2 separate regions of the Homo sapiens genome follow, and region 2 is linked to region 1. The links come from fine-mapping of genetic effects on gene expression. A gene starts in region 1. The other region holds a variant in brackets. All regions are shown on one strand. Distances are between the middles of the regions.

Evidence for each region. PIP is the estimated chance that this variant, and not a neighbour inherited with it, causes the effect.
Region 2: its variant is fine-mapped to the expression of ZFX in fibroblasts (GTEx, PIP 0.98).

What each region holds. Positions count from the first base shown.
Region 1 is chrX:24,147,459-24,152,959 of GRCh38, reverse strand. It overlaps ZFX (zinc finger protein X-linked), which reads right to left and starts at 3,231. Exons shown (of 10, transcript NM_003410.4): 1 at 3,166-3,231; 2 at 1,160-1,269; 3 at 130-240. It overlaps ZFX-AS1 (ZFX antisense RNA 1), which reads left to right and starts at 3,306. Exons shown (of 3, transcript NR_046657.1): 1 at 3,306-3,405; 2 at 4,118-4,207. RefSeq lists silencers at 2,225-2,734, 2,785-2,834, 2,855-3,264, 3,325-3,684 and enhancers at 2,775-3,588, 3,795-3,894.
Region 2 is chrX:24,211,157-24,216,422 of GRCh38, reverse strand. It overlaps ZFX (zinc finger protein X-linked), which reads right to left. Exons shown (of 10, transcript NM_003410.4): 10 at 168-5,266. The coding sequence ends at 5,047. Among named protein-coding and RNA genes, the nearest start is that of ZFX, 64 kb to the right of the region's middle. The variant A/G (reference allele first, on the strand shown) is at 2,782.

The DNA of each region.
Region 1 (5,501 bases):
ATTCATCCAGGGTGGTTGGGTTCGAAGGTGTTCCACCAGTCAGTTTTCCAAAGTTTCAAGGTCTACCCTTTCAGGCAAAAATAATTTTATATTTAACCATTTCTAATTGAAACTAAACTACACACTTACCTGTCTTAATCACACAACTTGACTCTAATCTTAATCTTGAACATCCACTGTTGCTGTACTGCGCAGCAAAACAATTCTATCTTCTTAATAGTTCTTCTATGTCTTTCCCAGCTGTCAAAATATAAAAGCACCTGGTTCTTCTAAGTTTATGTTTACCCTTAACACCTCAACAACCACAGCCCGCCTTCTCAACTTGCTTCTAGTCAGCCTCATGCAATGCACTGTTTCTCGAACTTTTCTAAACCATAGCCCTTTATAATAAACATGAGACTCTCATTCCCTCCAGCCCTTTCATGGAGCACCGCTGCTCACGACCTGTTACAGTCTAGAAAAATGGAAAAACTGAAAATGGGTATCTATGCCACCTAAAGGTTTCCATCATAAAATTCTAGGAAACAGGCAGGGCACGGTGGTTCATGCCTGTAATCCCAGCACTTTGGGAGGTCAAGGCAGGCAGATCACTTGAGGTCAGGAGTTCGAGACCAGCCTGGCCAACATGAAACCCTGTCTCTACTAAAAATACAAAAATTAACCAGGCATGGTGGCAGGGTCCTGTAGTCCCAGCTACTCGGGAGGCTGAGGCAGGAGAATTACTTGAACCCGGGAGGCAGAGGTTGCAATGAGCCAAGATCACACCACTGCACTCCAGCCTGGGCGACAGAGTGAGATTCAGTCTCAAAAAAAAAAAAAAATTACCACGGGAATACTCATTTCTCATTTTCGTCAAATAACCCACAGCACTAGTCCTGTACTTTTCAACCATGGTAAATGAAATGTTAGAAACCCCTCCCTATTTGTGTACCATAGAAATTCTGACAACTCTGAGCAAAAGATTATTTCGGATGAGAAATCAGGATAGAAAAAAGGAGCAGCTGTCTTAATAGAGACGCATCGTTCCAAAAGTAGCAAAATTTGCTTAACTTCTGAACATTCTTGTAATCGTTCTGATAATGAAAACACTGATCAACTTACTACTCTCATTATTTTTCAACTTTGAAACTTTTCCTAGTCCAATGGAACTACTAAGTACCGTAAAGCACAGCTCAGGGAACAGACGGCAGTGACAGGCGGGCAGTGGGAGGCGGGAGAACGGCTTGAGCCCAGGAGTTCGAGACCAGCCTGGGGCAATATAGCAAGAACCTGTCTCAAAATAAAAAATAAGTAAATAACAAGGTGCAGCTCAGGTGTGCCATCACTCTTCTAGTTGAGGGCACCCCCGCTGCCTACCCCATTGAGTATAAGCCCCTCCACCTGGCAAGCAAGCCCTTCTGCAATCTAACTTTTCTAGCCTGAATTCCCACCACTCCCCTACCTATACCATCCACTTTTGCCAAACTGTAAATACTTACTGTTTACTGAAGAAGCTTCACCCTTGAAACGTCCTTTCTCCACCTCCACCTCTACCTAACAAAGTCCTACCCATCCCTCGGTAACCTTCTCAAAATGCCACCTATTAATACTTCAGGAACCCGTCCCTCCCTGATCCTCCAATGGCAACCTTGCTTCCCTCGGAAATCCCAGTAATTAGTTGTACCTCTCACTTTACTGCATTTCACCTTGCCCCACCTACCTCTAAACATGAGACTTCTTGCAGCCACCGTCTGCATTACAAGAACCTTTTTAATGTTTCTTAGCATCTAGCACGGTGCATCGCTAACAGTAGGCTCCGAGTTTATCAAGAAAGTTGCACAGTGTGCAATCAAAAAAGTACGTTAGGGGATGAAACTCCGCCTTAAAACTTCACAAATGAAAAATCGAAATACCATGACAGGCAAATGCACAATAAATATGCACCACACTAAGTTGTCCTCCAATAAGAAAATAAAAAAGTCTGCCCTTATTCCTCGATTTAAAAAAATACCACCAACAGATCACTACTTAAATCGTTTTTCAAGAAAGTTGTTTCCACATAAATGAGTACGAATGATTCAAAATTTTATTCCTCCGCTCTCGTGTTGTGCAATTTTTTTCCCTATAGGACAAAAGAATGGCAAAAACTTTCCCATCAATCTTTATTTTTCTTCCTTTATTCAGATACTCGGGGCGGCAAAGATTGTTGGAAAAACAACTGCATCGAAAGCACCTTAGCAGCCACATATGATTTGACTTAAGCAAAAATAACATTTCCTGGGGTCCCGTATGCCCTGGTAAGCCCAGGTGTCCGGAATGCCACCTGCCCCGACTGCCCTCGGGTGGCTACAGGCGCGGGGGAAGGCGCAGGGCCAGGGGCGCTGAGGGTGAAACGGTCCCGGCGTCCGGGCGGCGGCGGTGGCCGCCTGCGGCAGCTCAGCTGAAACGCAGCGGAAACTGCAGCCAGTCACGGGGCTGCGGGAGGCAAGGCAGGAAGGTGGCGCTGCCGCCGAGCGCCTGGAGCCCGAGCGCTCATCATGGCGGCAAGGGCAATGGCCGCCACGGGGAGCGAGCACGCCCCTCCGCGCGCACACGCCGCCGCGCCGGGCCTCCGGGGCCCGTCACCGGCGCCGCTGCCGCCGCCGCCCGCTCTCCCACCCCCCCTCACGGGCTGTAGCGGAATTTTCTCTCCAGACACCGCCTCCAAGATGGCGGCTCCCCCTCCCGGCAACCCCCTCTATCGTCCCCTGCAGCAGGCGCCGAGCCGCCGCCATCTTGTCCCCCGTCCCTCCCCCCCCCTCACCGATATTTACATAGCGAAAATCGGCCCGGCCGGCCTGCGGCCTTCACCTCACGCCTGCAGCCTTCGCCTCCTCGCCAGGCCTCACCCCGGCGCGGTGCCCCAGGTCGGCCGCGGAGCCGACCCGGGGCCCCTCGACCGCCTCCGGCACAACCGGGCGACCCTCCCCCAACCCCCGCCCGCTTACGGAGCGCGCCTCCGCCGCCGCTCGGGGCAGCCGGGCTCCTCCCCGGGCCTAACTGCGGCCTCCTCGGGGCCTGCTCGGCGCCGCGCGCCACGCCGCCCGGCCTAGCGCGGGAGGGCGCCTTGCGGGCCGCCGACCAGGCCGAGACCAGGCCGCTGTGCGCGCACTAGGCCCCGCGGCCGCGGCGGCACCCGGGACTCACCGGACGGACGTGCGGGCGGCCGGCGACGGTGGCGGGTGCTGCAGGCCGGCCTTTCTCTGGAGCACTGGGCCGGGCTCCGGCTGGTGGGGCGGGCGGAGGGAGGGAGGAGGGGCCGAGCTCGGAGCTGACAAAAAGCGGCCCAGCTCCCCGGCACGGGCCCGCCGTCAGCACGTCACGTCACCGCCCGGGAGAGAGACCCAGGAAAATGCGGAAGGGTAGACAGGCCCCCTCCTCCGCCCGGTGGGTCCTCCTGGCACCCCGTGTCGGCGCCGCTCCCGCCCCGCGACCGGGGAGCCCAGTGGCCTCGCTGCGGCGGGGTCTCCGGCGGCCGGAGTCTCCGTGACAGCGCCCCCCTTCTTTCCACCTCCTCCGCGCTCCCGCCCGCCGCCGCCACACACGCGCCGCTGCCGCCGCCGCCTCGGCCGTAAAGCCCGCGCGGGGCCGCGGTCGGCCGACCCCGCGGAGAGGCAGGCGGCCCGGCCGCCCCCCACCATGTCCCGTGGGCCGCGGCCGCCCCCCGGGGGCCTCCCTGGAGACCTACCGCCTCTCGCGCCGGTCCTGGCCGAGGCTCCAGCTCGAGTTGTTTGCAGGCCCTCAGACCCCCGCCCGCAGTAAATGTGTTTTCTTCATCCCCGTGGCTGGGGAGGAAGATAAATTTAGCAACCCCCGCCGTCCCCTGCCTTCGCTTAAAAAAAAAAAATCTTTGAAATAAAATGAAAACGGGCTTGCCAGTCTAAATGGGTGTGCGGGAAGGGGGGTGGAGTGGGGGGAGAAGGGTTATCCCTAGAGCACCTACCAGGCCGTCTACTTTTTAAAAATAAGCAGTCAGAGCCAAACTGATTTTATTAGTTTGTACGGGGGAGGGAGATGAGCAAAGTTGCATTTTGAAACGTTTCGCACGTTGCAAAGAACAGGAATTTTCTGTGTATTTTCCTATGTACCCGTGTTTCAGAGCTTGGGAGCCTGTGAAATGTAAGACTGGTGTCATCGTTTCATAAATCATGAATTTTCCACATTCCTTAATAGAGAGGAGCCCAATTGGGTATGGATTTTTTTTTTTTTAAACACACTGCTTAAACAAGCCTTTTGAAGTTTCAAAAGACTTGGGAGAGAAGGGGAAAATGATTAAACAGCACTTACCAACTTCAAAAATGTGTATTTCGCACTTTACTTAGTTTAAATGTTTATGCTATCTTTCCATGCTGAACTTGGAACCCAAACTCTGTTTTAAAGTTACTAGGGAAAAGTTAAATAGTGGAGTCTTTACATTAATCTGGAATCTGGCATGCTATCCTTTAACACAGCACTAAATGTTAAAGGCATTTTTAAACAATAAGAAACACAAAAATTATAAAGCAAATAGTATACTGGTGTGAAATCTCTTTAAATACAGAGGCCACGTATTTTAGTTGCCTGACATAACTCTTTAAAACTCCCAGAATGCAATTTGTCCCTTCCCTCAGACATCTCTCAATCACAAATGCTTTCAAAAAGGAAAAACAAAAGTAGAGTAAGAAGAAATCTCTGAGCATGCACTGGATGATAATTTTCCTCTCGGGGCTTTAGTCTGAATTTTTCCAAGCGATTAAATTTCCTTTCAAAAATAGTAACAGCATGTATTCATTGTTTATAAAAATTACATCAGGCTGTGATAGACTTTCACAGAAAGACATTTCACAGAAAGGTAAATGAAACTAAGCAATGTTGTTTCAATAAAAAAAAATGAGAAATAGCTTGTGTGCCCACATTAATATTTCTTGCACTCCCAGACTGGAGTGCAATGGCGTGATCTTGGCTCACTGAACCTCTGCCTTCGGGGTTCAAGCGATTCTCCTGCCTCAGCCTCCCGAGTAGCTGGGATTACAGGCACTTGCCACCACGCCTGGCTAATTTTTCTATTTTTTTAGTAGAGATGGGGTTTCACCATGTTGGCCAGGCTGGTCTCCAACTCCTGACCTCAGGTAATCCACCCGCCTCGGCCTCCCAAAGTGCTGGGATTACAGGCGTGAGCCACCGTGCCCGGCCGCCCACATTAATATTTCAAAACATTGATAATCAGCGTTTAAGTACTTTCCAAGGGCCTCAGTGTGATGCTACGGTATGGCAAGAATGGAGGCCAGGTTCCCTGGTTCAGTCCTGTAATCACAGCACTTTGGGAGGCCGAGGCGAGAGGATCACTTGAGCCCAGGAGTTCAAGACTAGCCTGGGTAACATGGTGAGACCTCGTCTCTATTAAAAAAAAAAAAAAAGAAGAAGAATAGAGCCTCACTTCATCCATGCAACTGTAAGCAGCATGTTCAAGACAGAAAAACCTAATGTCACCATTCTTGTTAGTT
Region 2 (5,266 bases), 64 kb before region 1:
GTGTCCACCAATACCAGCAATACAAGTAACATGAGAGACCAATTGAATAGGAAAAACCAAGTAAAGGAAAGTAATTCTTGATTTTGACCTCAAACTTCATGGAGTGAGTACTTCCATCACAGAGGTCAAAACATGATTTTGAAATCCAAGTCGGTACAGATGCTATGCCTATATGCACCAGTGACATGTTCCTTGGTGCTATTATTAGTGTTGAACCACTGAAGGGAGTCGAATCACCTCCAGCTTCAAACAAGTTGGGAATTCATTAACTGTGTGATTTAAGTCTCCTCGTTTCGAGTATATACCTTGTCTATAGCCAACACTCCACTAGGGTAACTTAAAACAAAATAGTAATTTATTTACAATAGCAAAGATGTCAAAAATAACAGGAACAATATATAACAAATCCAAGATTTTTATGAAAAAGGCAAACAGTATATACACGAAACAAAAGATGAAACAAAATCCATAGGGTAAACTTAATTTGACCTTAGCTAAACAGTTACAGAATGTGGCAAAATGGTTATGATTTATTTAAGTAACCCTGGGCCAATTAAACACACACACACACACACACAATCTTTTTCAACCCTTCTCTTTTAAATGCTGAATCTTCCTCTCAACTCAGTTTACCTTTGAAGAATGTAACCATGGGAGGCCACACGAGATTTAGGAAGTGCAGGCTATTTACATGTGCGCTAAAGGCATACTTGTTGACTTGGCAGGCTCACACTTTTAAAACAGCAAATGGAAGGTATAAACTGTCTGGGGTCCTATTTTTCTCTCACTGTTCATTTCTGATTTTTTGTGATAATTTCTTTCTTATCTACCACACAAAATGCTGAACCAGTCATCTTTTAGGTTCCTCAAGTGCTCTAAAAGTGTTTCCCAAGTTTGAACAGGCATCAGAATCACTTGGAGAACATGTTAAAACAAAGACTGCTGGGTCCCACGCCAGTTTCCCAATTCAGTAGGACTAGGGTGGGGCTGAGAATTTGCATTTTTAACAAAGTCCCAGGAGATTAAGATGCTGCCAATGCTGTCCGGCCATACTTTGAAAACCACTGCTCTGAAAGATTGCCCCTTTAAGATATTGATTAGCCATGTTTTTCCTTACATGAATGCTAGAATTTGTGGGAAATGAAATTATTAATACTGAGATTCCCAGAGAATACAAATACAGCAGCATGTTATCGGACTTGTTGGATCACAGACAGGTTAGGTGTCATTTGTTGGGTGTTCCATTACAAAAGTTTTTCAGCATGCTATGTATGGTTTTGTCTGATTTATGGCTCTGGACAGTGACATTCACCACATTCCCTTCGTCATTTACCTAAAATTTTAATTTATTGTTTCAACTATTAGGCAAACGTTTGTTCATACAGTTGGAAGAACTGCAGAATCTTGTCTATAAAATCAAAGATGGCACAACTCTATCTCTTTTGACTCCTGACATTTACTTAACTGCCGATTTTTAACTGTGGCAATGACCATTCCCTAGTATGTTAGCATCTACTAGTCCTCTAAACTGGGCGCAGTGGGGTAACTCGAGGGCATGATTTCTGTTGTGGAGGTGGTAACAGTCCCCACTGATTAAATATGCTGTAAATTAATACTGAAATGAACTTTAAGTGCTCTCAAAAACCACTTTATGCATGAGTAATTTATCTCAGGGGAATTGGAGATGCTAATAAAACAAATCCTTTATGAAGATAAAAGAAAAAATGAATTCCAAGGACATGCTCATCAAAGGACTCACCAATCACCTCTTAACTTCTCTGAAATATTACTTGCAAATTCACAGAACTGAAATATTACCAGTATTTGCATCCGAGTCACAAAATTCAAAGCAATCAAGCACTTTGCATTCCACTGCTGTGAAAAAGAAATTAAGAAATGGGGGGATGAAAATAATCCACTGCTTTTGATGTTTATTAGGTTTACAAAAACTGTACATTTTTTTTCCTTGAGAAAAAGCATTAACTTAGTACTGGTATCAAATAGACTAAACATTCAATAACAGGAAAATATTCTGATTTTTATTTTTGCACGTTATTCTCAAGTACACAATTACAATAATGTCACACATCCCTATATGATTTTCTTTTTATGTATTTTACTTTCTTTACAAAGTGTACAGAGGGAGGGACATACAATATTTAATAGGATATTTCTACAGAACAATAACTTATATTATGTCCTTGTAAAAATCTGTACCTCTTTAAAACATTTAACTGAAACATCCATTTTTTTTTAGCTTTGCTAATCAAAATTGTTTTAAGAATTAAAACTAGGTTGTAACTAATGTCAGTACATAACAGTGACTACAATTTCATTTTCTCTTTATACAGACAAGTATGTTTTATCATATTCACTTGACCAAACCCTTAAATACCTTTTAAAGGTTTTAATGTTGTGCTTTAAAAAGAACTGTGTATGATTCCGGAGTATGTAAGAGAAATATAAAATGTGTGAAGTGTTGTGTTCTTTATCTTTCAGTTTATTTAAAAAAATATAGTTAAATGACCCAATCATTTATATTTTCTGTATTAATTTTATAGGATTTAAAATTAATACATTTCCACTTTCATTTAAGTGTTTTTACATTATTTCTGGGAAAATAAAAATTAAGGGAGATTTTAAAGGTTCTCACAAAAAAACAGACAGAGCTTTCAAGAATCGCAGGGCAATGAATCACGGATCACAAAATTGTAAGTTAGTTTAAAAAAAAAAAAAAAAAAAAAACACATTATGGGGGCCAAGAAGGTACAGGAATTTCCT[A/G]TAAGATAGGCTAGGAAAACCCATGCCTTGACTTTGACTGGCATTTGGGCTGGAGTTCACACCTGCCTAAAGCACTTGGTTTAAAACTAGACTAAATCAGTCTAGCACTTCAGAGGTTTGCCAAACACCAAATATTTTGATTTCTAACCCTAAAAATATAACTCTTGAATACAAACATCAATGGCAAAGAGAAAGATGAAAGGTAAAAACCTAAGCACACAGGGGATGGAGCACCATAATGAGGTGACAAGGCAGCTATCGGGTGGGAAGACAATTTCTAAATCTCCTACAATGTGCTAGATGCATACGGACCAATAGCCAACTGAAGGGACCCCAAAAACTGTTTTCTGTTCTCCCAGATTCGTCTTAACATAACCAAGTTCTAATTAACCGAGTTTGTTTTATGAATGTATGACACTGATTCAGACCTATGTGGTGTCTGGGCACGGTGGCTCACGCCTGTAAACCCAGCACTATGGAAGGCCGAGGCAGGTGGATCACGAGGTCAGGGTTCAAGACCAGCCTGGCCAAGATGGTGAAACCCCATCTCTATTAAAAATACAAAAAATTAGCCGGGCGTGGTGGTGGGCGCCTGTAATCCCAGCTACTCGAGAGGCTGAGGCAGATAATTGCTTGAACCCAGGAAGCAGAGGTTGCAGTGAGCTGCAGAGGTTGCAGTGATCACACCACTGCAGTCCAGCCTGGGCAACAGAGCAAGACTCCGTCTTAAGAAAAAAAAACAACAAAAAAAAACAAACAAACAAAAAACCTGTGGAAGACTTAGTGATGTTCCAAATAAGGCCTCAGACTTTCCTTATCCACTTAAAACACATCTTTACCTTTTAATCAAAGCCAACTTGAGTGTTAAGTTTTTAAAGTTTGCTAACTGTAACTGAGAAATAACAGATCAGCCTGAACTTGCCGAGTGTGAAGTCATAATTAGCACCCGTTCTCTGGTCCACAGAGCCATCACTTCTTTTCCATCCCCCTCACTAGGTAAGACAGAGTTCCCTCTCAGGCTTCTCAAAGAGAACTGTGGGAGTCATGTCTGGATACTCATTTGCTTTTCAGAAAAACATAAAGACATGGAGGTGAAATTGTATGAAAACATTCTACCTAGAAACATCTTAACCTCTATGTTTCAATTACCAAAGATATTTAAAAGAAAATATCTTTACTCTTTAAAAATACTAGTGTCCTTATTTTCCTTCTAATTCTTCACCTGAGTAGTCTCTCTGAAGAGCATGACTTACAAAATGCTCTCTCATGCATCCCTGGATCTTTCATGTTATTGTAAATTTAATACTTTTCATTATAGATTTTAAACAACTACTACTTGGGGTTGTGTGTATAAATATGTAAAATAAGCAATACACACAGGTACATGATATATATGTGTATATATATAATTCAGGGTACATTTACATACATAAAGTTGCAAAAGATCCTATAAGCCATGAGTTACCTCTAGGAGATTCCAAAATGCAGTCCTCAGTAAGTGTCATTTGTAGCACACAACCATTCCAAGATGAAGCCGCACAGACAGAATAATCAAAATACAACATGAGCAAGCACAGTTTTTCAATAAGGTTTTCTAAAAGTTTGCTACGCTGACAAAAGATGTAAATAATCCAAAGAAAGCCAAAAGAAGTATATTTGAAAAGTAAACACGAACCCAGCCACTGCTCTTTACTCAGCAAAGCCAGGGACGCAACAGCTCAAATGGAAACTTTCACTGTCAAGTGGTCTGAAAATATTAAGCAAGACAAGTAAATGACTTCCATGTTATGATAATTAGACCTGACTGTAAAATCTCCCATTTATATTAGTAGATGTCTCTGACAATTTTATTGTGAGAAATGTATGGGGAAAAAAATGAGTCAACATGAATACTTTCAGAGTTACCAATATAAAGTTACCTTAAGTTAATGGTCTTAGAAGAGTACCATCAAGGTAAGCAAGGTAAATATTTAAATAAATATAAAATTCTAAGATATAAAACTTCGGTATAGAATCAGGGATTACTTTATTAAAAGTAACTAGCATGTTGCCAGTTTTCCCTATTTATTAAACAAACTGAATAGAATTCAGAACACACTACTGAGCAAAATGTATATTTAAAAAAAAGTCAACTAGAAGTAATAATTCTATTTGTACACAGCATAAATCAATATACAGTATTGTATGTGAATGAGACTGATTGGCTTTAAAATGAATTTTCTGCTTCAAGGCCAATATCTCTACAAACGTTCTGTAGAAGTATTGTTAGGGCAGGCCAACTTCTTTATGATGTCGCATTATGTGCTGGTTCTTTTCTGAAGGTCTTCGGAAGCCTTTCTTGCAGTACTCACACCGGTGAGGATAGTCTTTCGTGTGAATGGAAATAACGTGCCGTTTAAAGCCTGAGGCATCTGTAGTGCTATACTCACAGTACTCACACTGATACACTTTCCTGCCACTGTGTGTCTTCATATGCTTTTTAAGC